3 separate regions of the Homo sapiens genome follow, and all the other regions are linked to region 1. Evidence: fine-mapped expression QTL. A gene starts in region 1. Each other region holds a variant in brackets. All regions are shown on one strand. Distances are between the middles of the regions.

The links.
Region 2: its variant is fine-mapped to the expression of HULC in fetal neocortex (Walker 2019, PIP 0.95).
Region 3: its variant is fine-mapped to the expression of HULC in prefrontal cortex (CommonMind, PIP 0.95).

What each region holds. Positions count from the first base shown.
Region 1 is chr6:8,648,554-8,656,742 of GRCh38, forward strand. HULC (hepatocellular carcinoma up-regulated long non-coding RNA) reads left to right here and starts at 3,716. Exons shown (of 2, transcript NR_004855.3): 1 at 3,716-3,837; 2 at 4,992-5,303. The region is part of intron 3 of LOC100506207 (a long non-coding RNA gene); the gene reads left to right.
Region 2 is chr6:8,432,016-8,440,204 of GRCh38, forward strand. SLC35B3 (solute carrier family 35 member B3) reads right to left here and starts at 3,530. Exons shown (of 10, transcript NM_001370479.2): 1 at 3,328-3,530. It overlaps LOC100506207 (a long non-coding RNA gene), which reads left to right and starts at 3,608. Exons shown (of 5, transcript NR_038980.1): 1 at 3,608-4,163; 2 at 5,925-6,016. RefSeq lists enhancers at 538-707, 3,158-3,297, 3,270-3,811, 3,308-3,367, 3,568-3,737 and 2 more. The variant C/T (reference allele first, on the strand shown) is at 3,635.
Region 3 is chr6:8,447,430-8,455,618 of GRCh38, forward strand. All of the region lies in intron 2 of LOC100506207 (a long non-coding RNA gene), which reads left to right. Among named protein-coding and RNA genes, the nearest start is that of SLC35B3, 16 kb to the left of the region's middle. The variant T/TACAC (reference allele first, on the strand shown) is at 4,536.

The DNA of each region.
Region 1 (8,189 bases):
ATTGTATATCCATTGAGCACTCAATCAACACATTATAGAAAAACAGTGTATAAATCATACGAGAATGGATGGATATTTTATCTATAGTTTTATAGTCAATACTCAACTCTCTGCACATTTAGTATATGGCAGAGCATAATTGACATGAGGTAGTAGAATGGATGTTATTATGTTTGGAGTAGTATGGTTTATTCTCAGATGTCCATCTAATGAAAGTGGGTAGTTGCCTTGTCTTCATTCATTTGATAAATAAATGCTTATTGAGTTCCTGTATCGTAGGTCCCAGCATTGAAGCAGATCTAGGTTGTCGTTCTCATTTGTACAACATGACATCACCTCTGGGTCCAGCTTTGGCTGAGTGTGCCTCTGAAACATCTCACACATCAGAACTCTTCTCCCCTCCATGCCTGCCTCTGTTAGCCTCTCATTGCCACTTGATTCAACAGTTAGTTTTTCTTCCTGTAGTCAGCTGGTGTCTTCTACCTTGTACACAGTTGTCAGAGTGATACTTTTATGAAGTATAACATATTATTAACGTATTGCTAATTTCCTATGTCTAACTGTTTAAGGATTTGCATAGCCTGCAGGATGTGTGAGCTTCTCAGGGCGTACACGTTCTCCCATGAAGACCCCTGCCTCCCTCATCTCTTTTGTCTTGTACTACTTTGCTAGAGCTTCCATAATAAAACATTACTGACTGGGTGGCTTAAACAATAGAAATTTATTTCCTCATAGTTCTGGAGGCTGGAAGTGCAAGACCATGGTGCCAGTAGGGCTGGTTTCTCCTGAAGCCTGTCTCCTTGTTTTGTAAATACCACATTCTCTCTTTGTCCTCCCTGGGCCTTTCCTCTGTGCACACACATCCCTGGTATCTCTCTGTGTCCCAATTCTTCTTCTCCTAAGGTAGCAGTACCGTTGAATTACTGCTCAATCTAACAGTCTCATTTTACCTTAATTACCTCTTTAAAGACTCTAATTTCAAAATACAGTAACATTTTGAGGTATGGGGTTAGGACTTCAACATGTAAATTTTGGGGAGGCACAGTTCAACCCATAATGCATCCCTTACTTTCTTCCTTCTCCCTGACAAGCATCGGCCACACCAGATGTTTTTCTGATTGCACCAAAGCCTTCCGTATCTCATGCTTTGCTCCTTCTGCTTTCTTTGCATGAGATGCCTTTGTCTTATCTAGACCATTTTTCTGCCTGATGAACACTGATAATATTTCAAGATGTAATTTAGAAATCACCCTTGGCCTGGTGCAGTGGCTCACGCCTGTAATCCCACCACTTTGGGAGGCTGAGGTGGGCTGATCACGAGGTCAGGAGTTCAAGACCAGCCTGGCCAATATAGAGAAACCCCATCTCTACTAAAAATACAAAAATTAGCCGGGTGTGGTGGTGCACGTCTGTAGTCCCAGCTACTCAGGAGGCTGAGGCAGAAGAATTGCTTGAACCCGGGAGGCCAAGGTTGCACTGAGCCGAGATCATGCCACTGCACTCCAGCCAGGGTGACAGAGCGAGACTCCGTCTCAAAAAAAAAGAAGCCACCCTTTCTGTATTGTCTTTCTTGACCTCTTGGTGTCTGTGGAGATGTTCCATAGTTGCACCTGTGACAAGTGTTGTACTCATGTGGGTGCATCTGTCCTCAGTCCTAAATTGAAAACCAGAGCCTATGTTTCATTACTGCTCAATGAAGATTTGTTGGATGAATGACTTGCAGGATCTTCTCTGACCCTCTTGAGTTTTGATTGGTTGGATACATTGTTAGATAATGAGGCAACAGAAATGTTGCAGTTCCTGAGTTACCAAAGCAATTTTGTGAAGATAACTATACTGAGCAGGATAAGCTTAAGATACGTAAAGTGCAACCAAAGACACTGTGAAAGGTAACATGATAGGTTGTGCATAGAAGTGGACACAAATTGAACCAGGACACTTTTACTTTAAGCTAAACTATTATTTTCTTAGATTTATTTACAAGAAAATGATTAGAGTAAAAGTTTTGCTTTTTAAAATCACTTGAAAAATTTCCCAGAGTCTCTTTTATTTCTTTTTTCCTCACAAACAAAAGGAGCTAGCTTTTTCCTAAAGAAGTTTTATCCTGATGATTTACTAAGTGAGATATTAGATAATTACTTTTACTTTATAGATTTTTACCTGGCACCTCAGGACTTGGAAATAAAGCTTTCTTTGAGGGGAAAATGTTTTGAAACATAAAACTTCCAAGACAAAGCTGTACCCATTTTCTAGCACAATTTATAGCAACTTCTAGAATCTCATATACAAGATGGGAGTTGAAAGAATTTTATAAAATTCTCATTTAGCAATATTAGAAAAATATTTAATGCATTACCATTCATCCTTTCTTTCATAGATGTTAGACAAAAAAAATAGATCTAGATGTATTCTGACAATAGTTCCTTTCCTTCGACACTATGCTCCATGAATTGTTCTGTGGTTCCCTATTTTTTGAAATGTAGGTAAGACCTATCTTGTATACACCATAAATTATAGTTCATTATAAACTATAGCTTATAGCAAACTTTAAGCAAGAATGATGAACTACTGCAATTTGGAGGAGAGAAATCCTCTGCCTGTTGGTAGGACTACATCAAGGTAGGTAGTTATCTATGTTTCTTTGGAAGAGTCTCAAATCATGTCATTAAAAATGGCAGTACTATACATATACCTGATGGCTTTGTCCCTTGGTTAGGCTCTTCATTCATTAGTAAATTCATCAATTTATTTCCTCCATCATTCAACCTATGTTTCCTATGAGCTTGCTGTGTGCAGGATACTTTGCTACATTAACTATGCAGTGCCTTATTGTATGCAGTTATTTGCCCCATTTATTTTCATGATAAGATTTCAAAAGAAAACTCTTAATACATCCGGTGAGGGCCTTTCCACTTGAAAAAAAATGCCAAACATTTAACCTGACTGAAAATGTATCACCAAAGTGCTTGGCTTCTGGCATAAAGCAGGGACTATGTATAAACACATCATAAAAATAGATAAAACAAGACCAGAGAGCCCAGAAGGGTAAAGTTGTCCTTTAGATACAGTCATGGTGACAACCCAAGCAGTGCCAGAGGATAAAGCAAGCTGCACCAGACTTCAAGTCAACAGACATTTATTGAACTCCAGTTCTGCATGGGGCACTGTGATAGTTGCTTTTGGGGATACAAAGATGAGTGAGACATCATTCTGCCCTCAAGAAATTTACAAGGGGAGAGAGAGATACACAGAACTGCCATACAAGGCAGGATGCATTAAGTGCACAAAGAGAGATATAACTAAAGTGCTTAGGGACATGCAGGAGAAAGTGGTTAATTTTTACCATAAATATCAGGGAAGACTTCATGCAAAAGATAGGCTTTGAGTTTTTCATGTAAGTTTAGATCAGATTCTGAGAGATAGAGGTATGGGAAAGAGTGAAGTAAACAGCACATAAGAACAGTCATGAAGAAGGCAATTTCAGTGTGCAGCATTTAGAGCTTGGGTCAGAAAAGCAGGTCCACTACAAGTGGGAGCTGGTTGCTATACACTGAATGTTTGCAGTCCACAAAATCAATATGTTGAAACCCTAATCTCCAGTGTGATGGTATTTGGAGGTGGGGCCTTTGGGAGGTAACTGGGCTTGGATGAGGTCATGGGGGTGGAACTCATGATGGAATTGGAGCCTTTACAAGGGAATGAAGAGACAAGAGCTCTCTTTATGCCACGTGAGGATACAGCAAGGCCCCAATCTGCAAGCCAGGAAGAGTCGTCACGAGAACCAGACCATGCAGGAACTCTGATCGTGGACATTTCAACCTCCAGAACTGTGATCCAGTAAGTGTTGTTTAAGCCACCCAGTCTTTGTTATTTTTTATAGCAGCCTAAGCGGACTGAGACACGTGAAGGTGGACTGAGACACATGAAGCAGTCAGTGTGGGGCTGTTCCTTCACTATCTGGTGCTGAAGCTTTAAGTCCACGGGGCAGGAAGTTGGGAGAAAAGAGGGCGTGAAATAGAGAGGGGTTCGAACAATCTGGAACTCTTGAGGCTGAGCTGGTTCCCACAAGGACCAACTGGGACCCATTAGCCCCTCTTACCACCTGTTAGCCTCCATCTTTGATTATGGAATCGATTTGCTGGAGAAGCTGGAGCTTTTCCTCATGGAGCTAAATCTGCTGCTGCCATGGGTGTGATAAGCTGAAGGAGGGGAGTGGGAAGGAGCTGAGGAGCTGCACTAGGCTGCTACCCCAGCCAACCAGTTGAACTGGCACTGGGACAACCATGTATGCTGTCTGAAGCACAGCCTGACGCCCCTGTGGACCTTTATAGAATGCAAAGAGTATGGCTGCTACTTCACTTTTACCTTTCAAATCTTGTGCAAATTCACTTATGCTCCACCCCCAACCCAGAACTCTGCGGATAAAGGAATTCTGGGAAATGTAGTTCCAGTTTGTCTGAATTGACCTATTGCAAATCCACAACACAGCACCAGAATATTACCTAGGATTATATTCGACCTGTTTCAGTGCTACAGAATATTTTATCTTCTCAGAAACCATGTAGTCTCCTTAGAACATCACAGTGAGTGCAACCTCCCACAGAGCTAACCTGTGTAATTGAAACCATTTAGGGAACAATGTATTCACTTGCTAAAGATCAACCAACTTGTTCATTTTTCAATTGTTTAGGGCCTTGCTGGAATTTAACACAAGGCAGAGAATAAGATTTGAGTAAAAGAGAGAGTTATATAAAATTGATGCTTTTCTCTCTTTTTTTTAATCATTGAAAAGTGAATGGAGAGACCCTTTTTCATTTTTGCTGGACAGCTTACAAATTCTAGATACATCAGAGCTCTTACATACAGATGTAGAACAATATGGTCTTGGGAAGCTGAAAATGCTAACTGAAACAAGCAGGACAGGGGATGAGTCAAGTGATTAATTTTTTATGATGATAGATGTCTTACAACTCTTTCTTTCCTCTTCCTAGAAATGCATATGTATCTTTGGAAGAAACTCTGAAGTAAAGGCCGGAATATTCTTTGTTTAAAACATTAAAAACAAAACAGACCAAAGCATCAAGCAAGAAGTTTCCTGGCAATAAACTAAGCACAGCATTATTTTTTAAGGAACACAAATTAAGTGTTCAACCTGTGGCAAATTTGTACTTTCTCCCTGAATTATGTTGTTATCAAAGAAAAAAATTGGGAAGCATGGCAAAATATCATCAAAACTGAAACTAGAATTAAACAAAACTAAATTAAAATGAAATAAAATGATGTCCATTCTTAATTCATCCTCACAACTGGGCCACTAGTTTTATGCATCTTGGCAGCCAATATTTTTGTCTCTAGGGCATAAATTATGCATCAGGTACCTCTGAAACTCAGAGACCAAGGAAAAAGGAGGTAATTTGGAAGGTGAAATAAATGTAAACATTCTGAAGAAAGAATCAAATCTGTACTTCAGGGTCAAAGATGAAATTCAAAAGGGGTTGACAATGCATAGAAAAAAGTGCTGAATTTAAAGTTGGTTTTATTATTATCATTGTTATTTGAACCAATAATTAAATCCAGTAAGTCTAGAGCAATGATCATAATTCTGTACTGTTGTTTTTCTATTTTAGAATCCAGTGTACTGTTTCCAAGAGCTTGGCAAAAAAAAAAAAAAAAAAAAAAAAAAAGAAAAAGGAGCTTGACTCTAAATCTCTAAATCTTGGAGTCTGGATGCACTATTCATGTGATAGGCTAAAATAACTACTAATACCTTATGTTCAAACAGCACTTTATGAAGTGATTACACATAAAAGATCTTTTTTGATATAACTGTTATACGGCATATCTTCCATTTTATAGACAGGGTGAGTTGTTTGATGCGTAAGATGAGCTGAAATAGGAAAAGTGACAGAAAATTTACAGACCTATGGAATAATATTCCACAATGGGGTATTCTTTATAATTATCTGGGCTGAATAGCACCATCCAAAGTTCTTAAATCATCAACAATGCCATTTTTACTGTAGAGGAGAAGAGTTATGATCCTTTGACTCTTTAAATTTTCTTCCTTGACAAAAGTGATCTACCTTTCTAGCCAACCTGTCTCAATGATCCATAATGTTGCTACCCTGGTGCCAGATGGATATGATAGAAGGCTCCTAAAAGGCTCTTGGTTTGAGGAAAGTGTTGCTTACATACAACAGGAATCTTGTGGGATTTAAGAAGTGGGGAGATGTAAGTTTGAGTCATTAATAATTTAACTAAATTTACTTTTACAATGTTAGCATTGCTATTTTGGTTTATGTAACTTATGACTAATATTTTTAAAGATACTGAACATTATATTAATTTCTTTACAGCATGGCTTACCTTTAAATATTGCACCATGTCCATAGGTGCAATCTGTCCTAATCTATTTCTATTGAGGACCCAAAATAGGCACTAAGATGTACAGCTGTGCCAAAGAGCGATTTATCCCTCTTCTTGATCTAATGCACCGTAAAATCTAGTAATTTCTTACTGTTCCAATGATTACTTCTTGCTTATAGCTGGTACTCAGTCAAAACAGCCTGTTACCAGATTAGCTACATTATTTAGACCAAATTCCTCTTAACTGCCTACTAGATTTCTCATCTTGGATGCCCCATGGGTTCATCAAAATTAGGATGTCCAGAACGAAAGCCATTACCTTCCCCTCAAAGATGTCCTTTCTTTCTAAAATGATTCTGTCTATGTGTGAATGGCATCATGATCCCCTGAATCTTGCAAACTATTCACTTTGAAGTCATCCTTAACTCCATACCTTATTTGTTAGCCACCTCATCCTGTTAAATCACAAACGTGTTTCCAACCCGACTTCTCCAATTTATTCCTACTGATTGTGCTATTCCAAGTTCTCTATGTATTGCCTGGATTTTCTCAGCATTTTGTAACTAGTTTCTTTGTCAATAATCTCTCATTATTCTGGCCCCCAGCCTGCCAATGACCTTGCTTTAATTTTAGTGGGATGGTTTCGAGGGAATGTATGTTGGTGAAAACAATTATCTGCTTCCCTATTTAAGCTAGAATGCCTTACAAACTGCTTAGCAGAGGAATGCAGCTCTTCACAAATTTGCCCCATATGGATCCTGCCCATGAGGCAGGTTCAATAAAGTCGACCAGTGATTGTTGGAGTGATGTGCACAAAGGCGGAAAGGGAATTGAGGCATTGGCAAAGCTAGGAAGGCTGATGATACTTATTAATAGTGTGAGGCAATGTATCTAAACAGAGGTTGAAATATAGGAGAACCTGGGTTTGCTTAATGGGGCTATTAGCTGGGCAGTGAGCCTGGTGTGTACAGAATGAAAAAAGAGGTGATTGTGAGTGGGGTTGTACGTAACAGGACTCTTGTGTGGCATTCATGTGCTGTCTTTCCAGTTACTCTGACACGTGCATCCTTTGATTTAGCTGTGTAATTTCTTTCATTATTATTCTTTTAAACTGACAAATAAAAATGTATATAATTAGTGTATACAACATGATGTTTTCACATATGTATGCATTGTGGAATGGCTAAATGAAGCTGATTAATATTTGCATTCCCTCACATATGTATCTGTGTGTGTGTGTACACTTAAAATCTACTCCCAGCAATTGGAAGTAAACAATACATTGTTATTAACTCTACTTGCCATATTGCACAATAGAACTTTTGAACTTTTTCTTCCTGTCTAAATAAAACTTTGTGTCCTTTGACCAACATCTCCCCAACTTCGTAACTCTCCTACTGCTGATAACCACTATCTTACTTTCTGCTTTTATGAGTCTGATTCCTCTAGGTACCTCACATTAGTGAAACCATGCAGTATTTGCCTTTCTGTGACCAACTTATTTCACTTAGCATAATATCCTCAAAGTGTATCCATGTTGTTGCAAATGATAGATTTCCTTCATGTTTTTAAGGCTGAATATTATTACATGTGTACCATATTTTCTTCATTCATCCATCAGTGGCCACCTAGGTTGCTTCCATATTTTTAGCCATACAATTTCTTAATGTTACTTGAGCACACCTAAGACTGTATTTCCATCATTTGACATTTTGAAATTAAGACATTTTGAGAATATTCAGGGCATAAAAGTTGAATACTGTTATAAATTTCCTATTGATTATAAACTAGATCAATGTAAAATTGCCCTCTACTCAATTTCA
Region 2 (8,189 bases), 220 kb before region 1:
TATCCCCTCCTTTGTGACACCATCACTAATCCCCCCAGTTATTAGAAAAGAGAACTTGAAAGGCAAGATTCAAATCTTATTTGTCTCTGTGTCCTTGGTACCTGGCATATACTCTGACCTGATATTCAGATGAACCAAATAAACTGATCCTTCCTCTTGATACCCTCAAACTTCAGCTTGCAATCACTCACCTTCTGCTTGGATACGATTTTTGAAATGGATGGTGGTACTGGCAAACTTTATGAGCAAAACTGAAAATCTTATAGAAAAAGAGTGGGGAAAATTTACAAATAATGCTTACATATTTACACATACATACAGAATAAATAAAACTTCTAGAAAATATCTTTCTTTCCTGCTTTTATTGGCATCAAAACATTTCTCCAGAAGGTCACGCTTTCCCAAAGTCACCTTCTTCTGAGATGTTTGTAATTTAGTAAACTGCCAAGCATATTGTAATGACTCAATACAATTATAGGTAATAGTATAAGAAAGCAGTATAGCATAATGCTTTCCCCATGCTTTGGAATTTTGACAGATATGAGTTCAAGATCTGGCTTTACTACTTATTAGCTGAGGAGCCTTGGGCAAATCGTTTAACTTTTCTGAGCTTTAGGTTCTGCACCTTCAAAAGTGGGAGGAGTTAAAAATGTGCCTATCACAGGATTTTGGTTAGGACTATATGAAATAAATGTAAAATTGCCTGGCATATGACAGTCCATAAGTGTGTTAGCTGTCATCCTTCAACTTTTTAGAAATATTGCTAGGGTGATATGGTGTGCTCAAGCTGACTCACCCCTTTGATGTGCAGCTGGAAATACAGACCTGAATTTCCAACGCTGCCTTCTCTCCTGAGATCCAGAGCTCTACGTCTAAATGCTTCTTTGATACCTCTACTCATAAGCTCTGCTGGCACTTCATATTTAAAATGGCCAAAGCTGATTATTTTCCCCTCAAAACAAATCTACTGTTTGTTCCTATATTCCCAATCTCACTTAACAGTACCTAGTATGAAACACAAGCTAAAAATCTGGGAGTCATCTTAAGAATCTTTCCTTTTCCTCACATTCTATATTTTGCCAAGATTCCTGTTAACTCTACCTCTATAACTATATCTAATATCTGTTTCGGACCCTACTCCATCAGGCAGCCATTTTCTCTTGCCTAGATTACGAGACTGTTTATAATCAATTCTTCCCTTTCTGACCCATCTGTCACATGGCTCAACGTGAAGTCTGATCATGCTGCATCCATGAATAAGGCCTCGAAGTTAAAAACGAGTTGATGTCCTGGACTCAATCATATTATACATATTTTTCAAATTCCTAAATGATAATGGTATAGCTTTTTCGTTTTTATACTTGTTTCTCCTAAAAGCCTATGAAATCCTTAAGGCAAGAGATATCTTCCTATGATGTTCTGGCACATAACAAAAATGTAAGATTAAATGAAGGACTCTACCACAGTTTAGCAAGCACCATTTATTTAATCAACGTTATTCAGCTCCTTTCCAACACTTTACCACTTCTAATACACTTCTTGGCAACTTTATGTGCTGCAGATCTAGGCCATATGTGCAGAATGAAATCTCTCTAGCACTGTCTTTTCTACATGTATGCCAAAATACCGACATTGCTACTGAAACTCCCCACAAAACATTTGAAATGAACATGAAAATAAATTTGTTTCCTCTGCCTGAGGCATCAGTCTCATAAAACTTGCCCACCAAAGCCTTGCATTTAGAATGCTGTTTTATTAATAAGAACATCACTGGTGAGAAAGTGTGACTGATAAAGACCTCTGATACCTAATAACTGTGATCATTGGGGAATGTCTGCCATATCCCTTCCACTTCAAACATTAATGACTGATACTAACCATCATCTAAAAAAAAAAATGGGCCAAACTCCTTGTGATGCAAGGAGCAAAAATGAAGCATGGAATTAAAATTAGTTTTCAGACTAAATGATCAACATTGTGCTTTGCTTTTGAAGCTCACAGTAATCAGTGAAACTAAAATATATATATATATATTTTAAAAATCACAGGTGTGTATAATTGCCTGAGGCCTCTTCCTAAATTCAACACAGATATTCAACTTCAACTGCTAAAATGGAATAAAAAGGTAGCATTTCCGGCATACAATGTATATTTAAAAATTAAAATTAGTGATAATGTTGAGTTACAATGACCTATTGAAGTCACAATTATTTCAGTTTATTTTTGAGTTTTCCGACCTGAAGGACAAAAGTCCCACACCAAAAAAAGGTAGAATATGAAAAAAAAGTCATTACGGTGTCATTAACCTGAAAAAACGTGATTTTAACTATACTTTGCCACACTCAACGTTACAAATAAAAGAATCTTACCATGCCATTATGCCTTGATTAACTGCGCTCCGGAATCAATCATGGCCTATGGTGTACGATTATAAAACAGAAAAAACAAAGTTCCATCTCATTTCTTTGTACACACATCATTACACAAAGGTGGAGAAACCCTGTGCTAATGTTTGAAGACTATTCTTTTTTTTTTCCAAGAGAAAAAGTTAACACTAGGACTTTATATATTAAGTAATTAAGTAAAAATAACGCTGTCTAAATTATTTTGAAATGCTGCCTCTCTTCCAAGTTCCAAACTATCTCAATTCACTTAGAAAAACGTTTAATCAAAAAACAATTCTAGGCTTCTGATATCCTAATGTAGAAAAAATGCAGATACTCAACACTTAAGATTTTGTTAGCGCACCAAATCATTCCATCTTTTACTTTCAATATTCCTTAAATAATAAAAAGACGGGAGAGATAATTCAGTTGCAAAGACTGGAGGAAACTTGCAGAACTTCTAGTGGAAGTTTATGCCATAAACTTAATAGCCCAGCCAGAACAATCACATTCTACTGCAAGCCAAATGGAGAAAAGAGTACCTTGGAGTGCCCCTATTTAATAAACACGGAACGAGGAAACAGTTAACTGTAAATACAGTCTAGAGGTATCCAGGTGACTGACAGTTCTCCAGAGACCCCGAGAACAGCGTAAAAGACCCCTTGAGGTCACCTCACCCCTGCGAGTCCACGGATTGGGACCTGAGGGAGTTCTCGCCAGCCCGAGGGCGAAAAACGGGCGAGGAGGAACAGATGCTCCTCCCTGGAAACCGCCCGGCCGGTTTCCGCTCTTTCAAAAAAGGGAATCACCCGTTTCTTCCATCCCGACCTCATCCATTCCTCGAACGCTCCTTCTGGATGAGGAAGATGGGCAGTGTCAAGGTTTTCTGGAGGAGAGGAGATCTGGGTCCCAAACACAGGAAAGGCCCCGAAGGCACGCGTACCCCAAGGCCGGTATGTCACCCGGAAGGGTGACGGCAGCCTGCGTGGCGTCTGAGCTAGACGGAGCATCTCCCCCTCCCCTGGTCCGTCGCCATCACCTCCTCTTCCTCCTCCTCCTCGCCCACTCCTGCACTTTCCACCGCGGCGGTCGCCTCCCCGGAAAGCACTCTCAACTCCGGCGCCCGCAGGCCACTTCCGCCTATGTGTCCCTGCGCGCGTGCGCAGACGCGTGGCCCCGCCTCCCGACAGGCCTGTGTGGCCGGTGGCGGGCGGGCCGTTACCTCCCGCGCATGCTCTATGGGGTAGAGA[C/T]GCTAGGCCGGCACTGCCTAGGTGGGCCGGGCGGTGCGAGGGTCGCCTTTCAGCCTTTACCTCTACCCACTGAAATGGAGTAGGTCGGTGAGCGCCGATCTGCTGGAGAATCTCATTATCCCATCGGCGCTCTGCCTGCTCCTGGCCTCCAAGCCTCTGAAGCCCCTCGGGTTTCAGCTGCCGGCTACCCTCGAGCCCGTGGTGCCCACGAGAGAGGCGACTTTACGTCAGCGGCCCTGGGCTGAGATTTGAGAACGCGACCAAGTGGAGAATGTTGGAGCCAGATTTTAAAATCCTTGTCTTCCTTCTGCGTGCTACTTGATCTAAATGAGATACGGCAAAGTCACAGAACCTGTTTTTATGTTTTTGCCTGATTCATACGGGCTTCTCCGGTGAAGATGGGCCTGAAGTAACGCTTGGGTTGCTTCTGACGTTATAACTCATCCTGTAGCTGCAGCAACCGTGGTCCTTGCAACCTCATAAAAATGTTGCCAGCATTGTTTCGATAGTGCTGCTTAATTCTTGGAAGGTAAATCTCAAAGCTTGAGGACCAGCCATCAAAACTTTTGTAAAAGGTTTTCCCCGCGTTTAGGGCCTCATCCATCACCACTGAGATGTAATAACGTAAAAACCAAGACGGTTTGGGGATGAGCTGTTTTCAGAGAATAATTAAGGAAAATATTACTGTAACGAAGATGGACAATTTTTGAAAGCATGCCTTGAATACCAGAAAGGGATGAATTGGATTAATATGTATGTTAGAATCCAGTCAGTTATGGACAACTTTTAAAATTTTACAGGCACTCTTCAGAAAGGGTAGCATTTGTGTCTTGTATTGGGATCGAGGGTTTGTAAGAAAGCAAGGCACCTACTTTGGTGGTGAGAAAAAAAGGTCTGGGTAGACATTTTCGTTTAATACTTGCCAACGTTGTTAGGCTGGTGTTAGCAACACTTAGGAATGTTGGAATTAAGGCTTAGAGAACTTAAATTTCCTAAAGAGATAGTAAATGACAAAACCTTTCAGTGATGCCATATCGTCACTGTATAATGTGAATTTAGTACTACTGTTAGCCATTTATATGGTGGTTATTTATCAAGTATTTATTAAATGGGCATATGTATAGCTCATATCGTAAACTATGCGTATGAGCTCCCTGTCCTGAAGAAATTAGGGGTTTCCATGAGAAAGTAAATGGCAGTATAAAACAACTTAAGGTACAAGAGGTGTTACAAGGTACCATCTGCTCATGCCTGGACAATTGCAGTAGCCGTGAGCATAGCTTTCTGCATTCCCTTTATTTCTCTACATAGTTGCATTCAGCAGCTGGAGTGATCCCATTAGAACCTGAATATGCCACTCCTCTGTGCAGAACCTTTTAGCGGTTTACCATTTTACTCAGATTAAAGTTCAAAATTCTTACCCTGACTTTTAAGACTGAACTTATTCTTGATGGATCACATCCAAGCTACACTTCAGAGCTTTTCTAATTGCCCCCAAGCACAGCAAGCATCAGTGCTTTGTAGCTGTTGTTCCTTCTGCATGGAACACTGCCCTCTCAGATGTCCACAGAGCTTGCTTCCTCATTTTTTTCCAGTCACTGCTCAAATGTCACCTGGCTCTTCTCTGACTACCATGTCAGTGAAATATTTTTACATGTCAAATGTGAAATGTAGGAGAGACTATCTGGAGTAGTACTTATTATAGAGTAGGTGTTTAATAAATATCGACTCTCTTACAATACTTCCCATTTACTCCTGTGATAACCACGTGGTAAACAAAATTAAAGACTTGCAGCTATGAATTGTTTTTTATTGACTGATTGACTGATTGAGGCAGAGGCTCACTCTGTCGCTCAGGCTGGAGTGCAGTGGCACATCTCAGCTCACTGCAACCTCTGCCTCCTGGGTTCAAGCCATTCTCCTGTCTCAGCCTCCCGAGTAGCTGGGATTATAGGCGCCTGTCACCATGCCCGGCTAATTTTTGTATTTTTAGTAGAGATGGGGTTTCACCTTATTGACCAGGCTGGTCTCGAACTCCTGACCCCAAGTGATCCACCCACCTCAGCCTCCCAAAGTGCTAGGATTATAAGCGTGAGCCACTGCGCCTGGTCCTATGAATTGGTTTTAAATTTTTAAGAAATTAATAATTCTGTAGTATCAGAAACCTTTGGTGTCTTGATTCACATCTTCTGAGCATCACCTCTCATTTCTGACTTGGTTGTGGGGGGCAGTTTCATGCAATCTTACACATTCTTCTCCCTGACAGCTTCTCCTCTCCCACATTTACCAGGCCTCTTTGCTTTCTTCCCTGAGGTTCTTCGGACTTCACACATTCCAGCAGTAGCTCTCTCAGCTCCTGTCCTGCACAGCTTTGAAGTGCTGGTAAGTCAACACATCTGGGGCCCTTCAACCAAGGGGTGACAGTCACTGATGGATAAATGCTCTTGCTTCTTACACTTGAGCAAGATAGTTTTGTAGGCCATTCTGTGTGTTTTTCAAAAAGTCCCAGTGAAATTGGGTTCTGGTTTCTCACAACAGCAACTTCAATAACACATTCTTGTATTATGTCTATATTCTCCCTTCCATTCTCTCATTGTTTCTCACTAGGATCACATCCCAAATTACCTGTCCCCACATAAGTAGTTGTCTCAGGTTTTGAGGGAAACCAAGCTAAGAAATTTGATGTAAGAAGAAAGTCTAGAATGCAGCTCCTCAGAACTCTGGAAGTGGGTTACTTTGCAGTCAGATGACAACAAGGACTTTCTTAGTGATATTAAGGGGAGGACATGTGCATGGCCCAACAATTAAGGCTCTTTCTTACTAAAGCCGATATGACTACTGCCTCTTTGGATGTCCAGCCCATCAGCAGCAAAGATTGATGGTAAATTCCATAAGGAGAGCAATTACACAAAAGTCCTTCCTTCCTGGAGAGAGCCGTGGTTTGTACTTACGGAACTGACACTTCCCTTGATATGACTGGTCTTGTTCATGGTGCCTCTGCCAGTACCATTATATAACAGAGTTACAAACACATGATTGATTGACTTCCTTCCTTCCTTCCTTCCTTCCTTTCTTTCTTTCTTTTTTCTTTCTTTCTTTCTTTCTTTCTTTCTTTCTTTCTTTCTTTCTTTCTTTCCTTCTTTTTTTCTTTCTTTTTCTTTCTTCCTTCCTTCCTTTTTCTTTTTCTTTCTTTCTCTTTCTCTTCCTTCCTTCCTTTTTCTTTTTCTTTCTTTCTCTTCCTTCCTTTTTCTTTCTTTCTTTCTCTCTTTCCTTTCTCTCTCTCTTTTCCTTCTTTCTTTTCTTTTTTCTTCCTTCCTTTCTTTTTTCTTTCTTTCCCTTCCTTCCCTCCATCTCCTCCCTCCCTCCCTCCCTTCCTTCCTTCCTCTTTCTTTCTCTCTTTCCCTCCCTCCCTCCCTCCCTTCCTTCCTTCCTTTCTTCCTTCTTTGACACAGAGTCTCACTCTGTTGCCCAGGCTGGAATGCAGTGGCACAACCTCTGCCTCCCAGGTTCAAGCCATTCTCCTGCCTCAGCCTCCCCAGTAGCTGGGATTACAGGTGCCTGCCACTACACCTGGCTAATTTTTTTGTATTTTTGGTAGAGACACGGTTTCACCATGTTGGCCAGGCTGGTTGTGAACTCCTGACCTCAAGTGATCTGCCCACCTCAGCCTCCTAAAGTGGTGCAATTACAAGCGTGAGCCACCACACCCAGCCCAAACACATGATTTTCTGATGTATTGCCTCCAACTAAAGGACACACTTTATGGTAAAAGAGGTGTGACAATGACACACGACCATGGAATTCCACTGGTCCTACCATATATTGTATCAACTGGAGGAAATTGGCCTGATAGAACACTGACATTGTTTTGTGAACATCAGCAAGTATCCTTTTCAGGAACAGTGCTCAGATAGGGTTGAGATGCCGTCACTCCTGACACACACACACACACACACACACACACACACACACACACACACCTGGCCCTTGGGAAGTTTGGTGGCATTAACACCCCCAGGCAATGATCCACCAATGGGGAATGGGCACCTATGGATAAATGCCTTCCATTTCCTAGGAGCAATTTTTGGGAGGTGTTTTTATGTATTTTAGGATGTCCTAGATAATCAAGTCATGTGACTTGGGGGAGCGAGAAAGAGAAACCAGCAGTGGAGACTTAGAAGAAGCAGCTGTTGACATAGGATGGGTCCAGGAATGTACAGTCTTCTAAAAGCCAGGTGAAGACAATGTTTAAAGGAGGAAGGAGTGATCAACAATGTCAGTTCGTGTCAATTGGTGTTACTTAGTCATGTGTCTGTGAAGAATCATCTTGCATAGTTAAGTCTCAGGTTCTAGTGTCAGATTAAATTTAAATCCTTGCACCACCCCTTGCTCTTTGAGTGTCTTTGTGCAAATTGCTTAAATTCTCTAAGTCTCAATCTCCCCATCTGTGAAATGGGAATGACAGTAGTACCTATGTGGTAAATTGTAGTGATGAGTAAGTGAAAGATGTTTAAAGATGGTTAAATGGTTAGCACAACACCTATTACCTGACAAA
Region 3 (8,189 bases), 200 kb before region 1:
ATGTTGGTCAGGCTGGTCTCGAACTCCTGACATCATGATCTGCCCACCTCATCCTCCCAAAGTGCTGGGATTACAGGCTTGAGCCACTGCTCCCGGCCCAGAATTCTTAGCTTGAAGGAGAGAAGAACAAGAGCAAGCTACAGCTATAATTGGTAAAGAAGTAATTCTCACTTATATTAGCCCAGATAGAGAGACGTTTGTTCATTTTGGGAGTTTAGACAATGTTCTTGTTTTTGTCTGAGTTCAGACATGATCACCAAGTGGTCTTGTGTTCATTTTGATCCGTCATTGTCATGGAATAGACTTGTCCACTATTGGTGTTCTGTGAAACTGGTTATGATCAACAGAAGGACACTGTGTCTTATTGGATAGTACCAGTCAATCTCCCAGCTATCAGGAGCTGCTTTTCTTTTTCTCACTACTATGGTCATGTACTGGCATGGTGAGTGCCAAGACAAGTGAGACTCCTACAGCATCCACTACTTTTCACTTTCTTCCATTCTATAGATTGCTGCTGGGTAGGTATTGATATTTTTACAATATTTCTTTTACCATAGTTTTACCATGTGTATTAGTTTCCTTTAGTGCAAAACAAGTTACTGCAAACTTAGCAGCTTAAAACAACACCTATTTATGAGCTCATAGTTTTGTAGATGAGAAGTCTGGGTATGGGTTGACTGGATTCTCTGCTCTGGGTCCCATAAAACCAGAATCAAGGTGTTGATTAGGACTGTCGTCTTATCTAGAGCTGAAAGTCTTTCTTCAAGCTCATTCAGGTTGTTAGCCAAATCCAATTCTTTGCACTTATTGGACTGAAGTCCCTGTTTCCTTGCTGGCTGTCAGCTGACGGGCCTCTCTCCGCTTCTGGAGGCTGCCTGTGATTCTTAGCCAACTGGTTCACTCCATGTACAAAGTCAGGTGTGTCAAAACCTTCTTGTGTTTCAAAACCCTGATTTTCTCTGTCTCTGACTGCTAGACCCAAATCTAAAGGGCTCATGAGATTAAGTTATGTCTAAAAGGATAATCTCTCTTTTGATTAAGTCAGATCAACTGATTAGTAACCTTAATGATGTTGGAAAAATCCCTTTTGCCATATGATATCACATTTTAAACTCAGATTATTTCAAGAGTCATTCACGTTTTTGCATTCATCAATAAAGCATTTATTGTTATTGCTGAAGTAAAATTCCATTTCATGAAATATTATTTATCATTTCACTGTTAATGAAAATTTAGGCCATTTCCAGGTTTTGGCTGTTACTTGTCAGGATGCTGTTGAGCATTCATGTTACAAGTGTTTGTGTGGACCTATGTTGCCATTTCTCTTGGGTAAATATTAATACCTAGAAGTGGACTAGTTTTGTCACATAGCTGTGTATTTAACTTTTTAAGAAACTGCTGGCCAGGCACGGTGACTCACGCCTGTAATCCCACCACTTTGGGAGGCCGAGGTGGGTGGATCACCTGAGGTCAGGAGTTCGAGACCAGCCTGGCCAACGTGGTGAAAACCCGTCTGTACTAAAAATACCAAAATTAGCCGGGCATGGTGGCAGGTGCCTGTAATCCCAGCTACTAGGGAGGCTGAGGCAGGAGAATCGCTTGAACCCAGGTAGCAGAGGTTGCAGTGAGCCGAGATCATGCCATTGCACTCCAACCTGCCGGACAAGAGCGAGACTTCGTCTCAAAAAAAAAAAAAGAAAAGAAAAAGAAACTGCTAAACTGTTTTCCAAAATGCTTATACCATTTTACATTCCCAACAGCAGTAGATGAGAATTCTGTTCACTTCCCATCCTAGCCAGAAGACTGGTCCAGTCTTTTTCATTTTAGCCATTTTAAAAGGCTTAGTAGTATCACACTGTGGTTTTAATTTGCAATTCTATAATGTCTAATAATATTAAATACTTCTCATATGCTTATTGACTTATTGAGCGTCTTTTCATATGCTTTATTGAGTTCTGTAGATCTTCTTTGGTGAGGCATTTATTCACATTTTTTGCCCATTAAAAAAAATTTTTTTTAACCTTTAAAATTTTTTCAACTGTTTTATTTCTTTTTAAAAATTTTCTATAGTTAGGATGTAAAACCTAATGTTTTCATATACATTTACATAGTGAAATGATTACTACAGTCATGCAAATTAACATATTTGTAACCTCCCATAGTAAGCTTTTCTTATTATCACATTTTGAGAATTCTTTATATATTCTAGATCCAAGCCATTTTATGAGAAATGCAGCTTGCAAATATTTTACCCCATGCTGATGCTTGTTTTATCATTCTTTTCATGATTTCTTTTGAAGAGAAGTTCTTAATTTTGTTGTGTATAATATTAATTAATTTATTTTTGATGGATTGTGCTTTTTGTGTCATAGCTATTAGGTTGGGGCAAAAGTAATTGTGGTTTTGGCCATTAGTTTCCATGGGAAAAACTGCAATTACTTTTGCAGAAACCTAATAATGTATCTTTGCCTCAGTGTCACAAAGATATTTCCTATTTTACTTTAGAGGTTTTCAGTTTTAGGTTCTACATCTAGGTCTGTGATCCATTTTGAGTTAATTTTCACATATATTTTGAGGTCTTTAGTTCATCTTTGTTTTTGAAAGTTGTTTTCACTGGATTTTAACTTCTAGGATGATGGATGTTTTTCTTTCAATACTTTTGTGATGTTGCTGCACTCTCCTTGCTTGCATTGTTTCCAATGAGAAATCTGCTTCTCGGGACACACTAAAGATGAAAATTACTCTTTTGGAGTTTTGTTGTTGTTCATCTATATTCTGGACACAGATTGTGACCATTTACCAACTGGAAGTACATTATTTTAAAACAAGTGAAATGTAAATTCCTGTCTAAAAGTGATTGATATTTCCAGAGGAATTCAATAGATATGGTCTTCCAGATATATAAATAACTTTCAATTTTTGTTATAGTGGTTGATCCAGGACAATGTATCATAAATTCTAGAAGCTTCATGTTGGTGTCCTAGGAGACAATATTGCAGCAGAGGTTAGATAGCCACTCTGCATCTTTGGAATAAAACAATTGCTACTTAGCAGAACCCAGGGTTAGACAAATCAGTCTTGTACCTATTTGAAAGGAAGAAGTATTAAAAGAAAATAAATCTTTATCAACAAATTTCATCTCAAATGCTATTATGGAAATGCAAGTTTCAATTCATTTATATAATTGAATAAAGTAAAATTTATAGTTGTTTTCAAAGCTTTCATTTGGCTATAACATATGTTAAATTTTTTATTTTAGATCTTTTAAAAATTGACTTAGTAATCAATAAATTAAAATATTTTATTATAATATTAGTCTGATATGTGGAAATCATACTAATTTTTGGTGAGTTGTAATTGCAGTTAAAGGCAGTTTGCTACATTTAATACTAGAAAGTATGCAAAAATCTAAAATCAACATGTGAAATGCATTCTATTGTTTTTGCAAAGAAATTAATAGCATAACATATACCTACATTAAATATACATAACATATAAATAAATATATGAAATAATATTTATATAATCGATATAAAAACTGCTTTCAAAATATATTGTATTTTTGCATTTTAAAGAAACAAAGAGTCAAAGAACTTGTAAAGAATTTGTTCAATTTCTGTTTATAGCTAATACTGGACTAATTCATGACAGAAAGATAGGTGGAAATAATTATTTCTGTGTCCTCTGTACGCCAGAAGAAAAGTTTCTATAGTTGAATAAATACAATTAAATGAAGTCCAAAGAGGTATATGTTGCAGCTATTTCTTTTAATCTTTTAAGATATTTGAATGTAATATTTAAAGACATAATTACTTCTTTAAGCTTTAAGGCTAAAGTTCTTAAACAGAAAGACAATAATCAATGACCAGAAAAGCAATCCAAAAAACCATAATGATAAATGCGTAACTCTAGATGAATATTAGTTCACTTTTTCATGAGTCACTTATGTTACTAATGACTTAGCAATCCTAGTTTACTTTATTGTATTATTATGCGTGCTAAGATTCTTGTTATTTCTGTACAGAGAAAGAGGAAAATACAAGAATTTTCTTTGTATTTTCTGAGAATGAGGTTTGATGTGATGAAGGTTTTTCATGGCTTTTTGAATTAGTTTTTTAAAAAAACTTTTGTCTTATAAGAAATTTGTACTCAGCTTATGTTTATTATGAATTGTTTCTTCTTTGAGTCATGTTTATTACATCTTTGAATTGCCAATATGATTATCCCGTATCATAAAAATATACTGTCTTTCTTTTGGAGTTGTTACTGAGTTATTGTTCATTTCAAAGGTATAATCAAGTTCTTAAATTGCTAATATGACTATTGAGTTTAAACAGTCTTGTCTCTTTTCTCAATAATCCTTTTACCAACTCCTTTCCCCACCTCTGAAGTTCTTTGAATCAATTTTCATCACAACAAAATAATTTGTGACCATGGTTCAGTTGCCTTTAGTTTGCTTTCATCACAATAGTCTTTCATAAAATAAGCTCTTTTGTGTGTATGTATATATATATATATGTGTGTGTGTATGCACA[T/TACAC]ACACACACACACACACACGTATACTGTTTTTCTATTTGTACTCTGTGTGATTATTTTGATGTGATTTAGGTCTTAACAGTAATCTAACTTCTTTTAGAAATAGAATGGCCAGCTTTCATTCGTTTGGACATTTAGGATTATATAACTCATATGGAAAAGAAATATTACTTTAGATGTCTTCTTATAACAATAGCCTATTGGATTCATCAGGGAGGAATAAAAGGCGGTCAGGAGCAGCATAGCTTGAGGAAAAATAATAGCATTTTTGTTTCTTCCATCTTAGCGTGTCATGATGTAGAAAGAAGATGGTGTTATTTTTTACCCTTTAAAAAAACTTGTGTGGTCTTAAGTTGATAAAAATAATGGAATAATAACAGTGTATTTTCCAGGCTTGTGACATAATAGGAGAAGTTTTAGATACACGTGTGGCAGCATAAATAGCTAAGGGACTGGGGAATGAGCCTGGCTGGCACCACTTAAACGTTAGACACAAGCTCTATTTCTAAGAGCATGCTGCTGAATATAACCTCTGTGAAGAATACCTGATTCTGGGAGGATAGATGCTTCACTTTAACAAAAATTTTCATGTTATCTTAAAGGCCATTCTTTTTTTTTTTTCTTTTTTTTGAGACTGATCTCACTCTGTCGCCCAGGCTGGCATGCAGTGGCACGATGTCGACTCACTGCAACCTCCACCTCCTGGGCTTAAGGGATTCTCCTGCCTCAGCCTCCTGAGTGGCTGAGACTACAGGCATGTGCCACCATGCCTGGCTAATTTTTGTATTTTTAGTAGAGATGAGGTTTCACCATGTTGGCCAGGCTGCTCTCAAACTCTTGACCTCAAATGATCCACCCTCCTCAGCCTCCCAAAGTGCTGGGATTACAGGTGGGAGCCACCACACCCTGTTAAAGGAGCTTGATGGAGCTTTGAGAATACCAAGACTTGGGCACAAGCTGCATCTTCTTATTTTAGATTGGGTAGCACTGTCCACTGATCTTTAACTATTATTATTGCTATTATCTCTGACCCTGAATACTGTGCCATTCTTTCTTTAAAGCCGATTTGAAGCTTTAAATTACTACAGTATTTTCAGTTGTGTGGAAGAGTAAGAGTTATCCACTGTAGTGCCAAACTTAGTCTTTTGCCACCTGATGGGAATTGACATTTGGTGTGCTCTAGTACTTACTTCTTACCTGTCACGCATAGCATCAGAGGTTTTAATTGCTTTATTTGCATACAGTTAATGAGGGTAGTATAGTTGGATAATCTAAGTAACCAAGTTAGTTATGTATTGAATTAGCCAATTAAGCCAGGTAATCCCTCTGAAATGTTTTTTGTTAATAAGAAAGAAGATGATAATGAAACGATTCATCTTTGGTTCCAATCCAAGTATAGTATCCTGCTGGGATAATGGCTTTGGGGCAGCGCAGTCTAACAGCTGGTTAGTTAATAAGCTTTCAGCAGCAAAGTGATTGTAAATAAACAGAATTGGACTCTAGCTTTGAAATAATACTTATCACTAGCTATTGATCTCTGTTAAGTTCTGTGTGAAACTATATGTACACACACATATGCATATCACAGTATGGATGTGTATGAGTGTTAAGTGCTTTAGGTATAAAGTTTGAGTTGTTGAAAAGGTCTTCATTCTGTGTAGTGGGTAATTGTTAGCAAGACACTACTTAAAACACTGCTTAAATTAAGTCTCACTCACATGCGTGTGTGCTGTAGCTAATAGTATCAGTGATCTTTGATCAGTTTGTTAGGGAACAGTGTAGCAAAATGAATACTACCTGGAAATCCAGAGATCTAAATTGGAATGAAGGCTCTGCCACTGTCAAGCTTTATTACTGTGAGAGGTAGCATCTTCCTAAAGATCCCTCCCCATTCCCCTTTGCCAAGTAGATTAACAGTTCCCTTTCTTGGGCCACGACAAAATTTTTGTACTCACGTCTGTTTGCTTCTATTAGAGAAGTAATTTTGGTGTTTTGCAGTGTTGGTACATTTTTCTCTCTCCCTCCTTTACTGGGATAGGAACTCTTTGAAGGCAGTGACCATGTTTTCTGTTTGTTTTCACTGTCTTGCCATATAGAGGGCAGTCAGTGAATATATGCTAAATGAACAGATTTGTATATGAGAGCTAGAATAGAGTATCTTTAACGACTTGATGATTTCTGCTTATAACTTGATATTTAGTAGGGGCAGTTATTTGATACAATTGGTCTGTCATATATTTAGTTGAAAGAATTACTTCTAAACCTGTCATTGGATTATGCTAGGTTACAAATTCCTAACATGACTGTGCTTGCAATGCACATCTGTGTGTTATTCCCTTAGTTTTTGACTTACTGAAAAATGATTCAGTCACATTCTGAATCTCAACAATGGAAGAAAGTGTATTTGTTCATGGCTTTATGAAACAAACGCTACAATTTGAAGGTAATTTTCTTATACCTTTAAAAATATATTTCTGATTATCAATCTTATCAAACCATTGATCATGTTAGTTACTGACATTGCTAAAATGAGCAATGATATCATCATTTTAAATTGTTTGAAACTTCCAACCAAGATGTACATGCACAATCCAATATGTGATGAAATATTTAAAGGCATGAACATTAAAAAATAATTATATTTAATATAGAACTGTAATTTTGAAACTTGAACACGAGGATTACTTTACATCCTCCATGTCTGTGTATATATAAGGATGAATCTTGGTCTGGATGTGAACCTTGGAAGACAGCAATTTGGGGACTGAATTCAATACTTGGATTATTTCATTTTCCCATGTGCTTAATTAATAGGCCATGCATCATACTACTGGTGAGAGAAAATGCACCAGACATGTTTTATTCTGGCATTTGTGTGATTCTTTGTTTAATTACTGTATATTTTTATTTATTGTCTTATTTAAGTTTTAATGTTACTTGTGATTATGAAATATATCCACACAATTAAGAATTCAAAAGTTGCAAAAGCTTCTGTAAAGTTGATTACACACCCTTGGCCTTATTCATTCACCAACTTCCCCTCTTCTCAGGCAACTAATTTTGTTACCAGTATCTTAATATATTTCCAGCAATATTATATCCATAGTAATTGCATCCACACAGAAACATATATTTTCTTTTAAAAAACTTAAAATAGTAACATAATACATGATTTTCTGCATCTGCCTTTTTAAATCTAATGATGTATAATAGAGATTTCTTAGATTTTATAGTTGAAAAAACTAGATTCAGCCAAAACAGGGGCTTAGGCTGTATAAAATATACAACTTTTTGGTGGTCTATTCATATATATTTGTATTTGTAGCTGTTATTCTTACATTTATATTTTATTCACATACATTTATATCTGTATATTTTTTGGTCTATTTAATCATCATGCATTTAGTCATGACATATTCAGTATAATCAACTTTTCCTTTCAAATTGATTGTGGGGAAGGGAAGCAAAGGCCAAGTGTTTGTAGGCATGGTATAAGTTTAAACTTTAGGCTTCCAAACCCAAATTTCTATTAAGAACAGAATGACTATGTTATTCTAGAATCCAGAAACTATAATGTAATGAAGAATCATTGAAAGAAATGAGCATGCAATTATTGTCCTCAAGTAATTTAATGTCTATTAGATAAAAAGGAATTA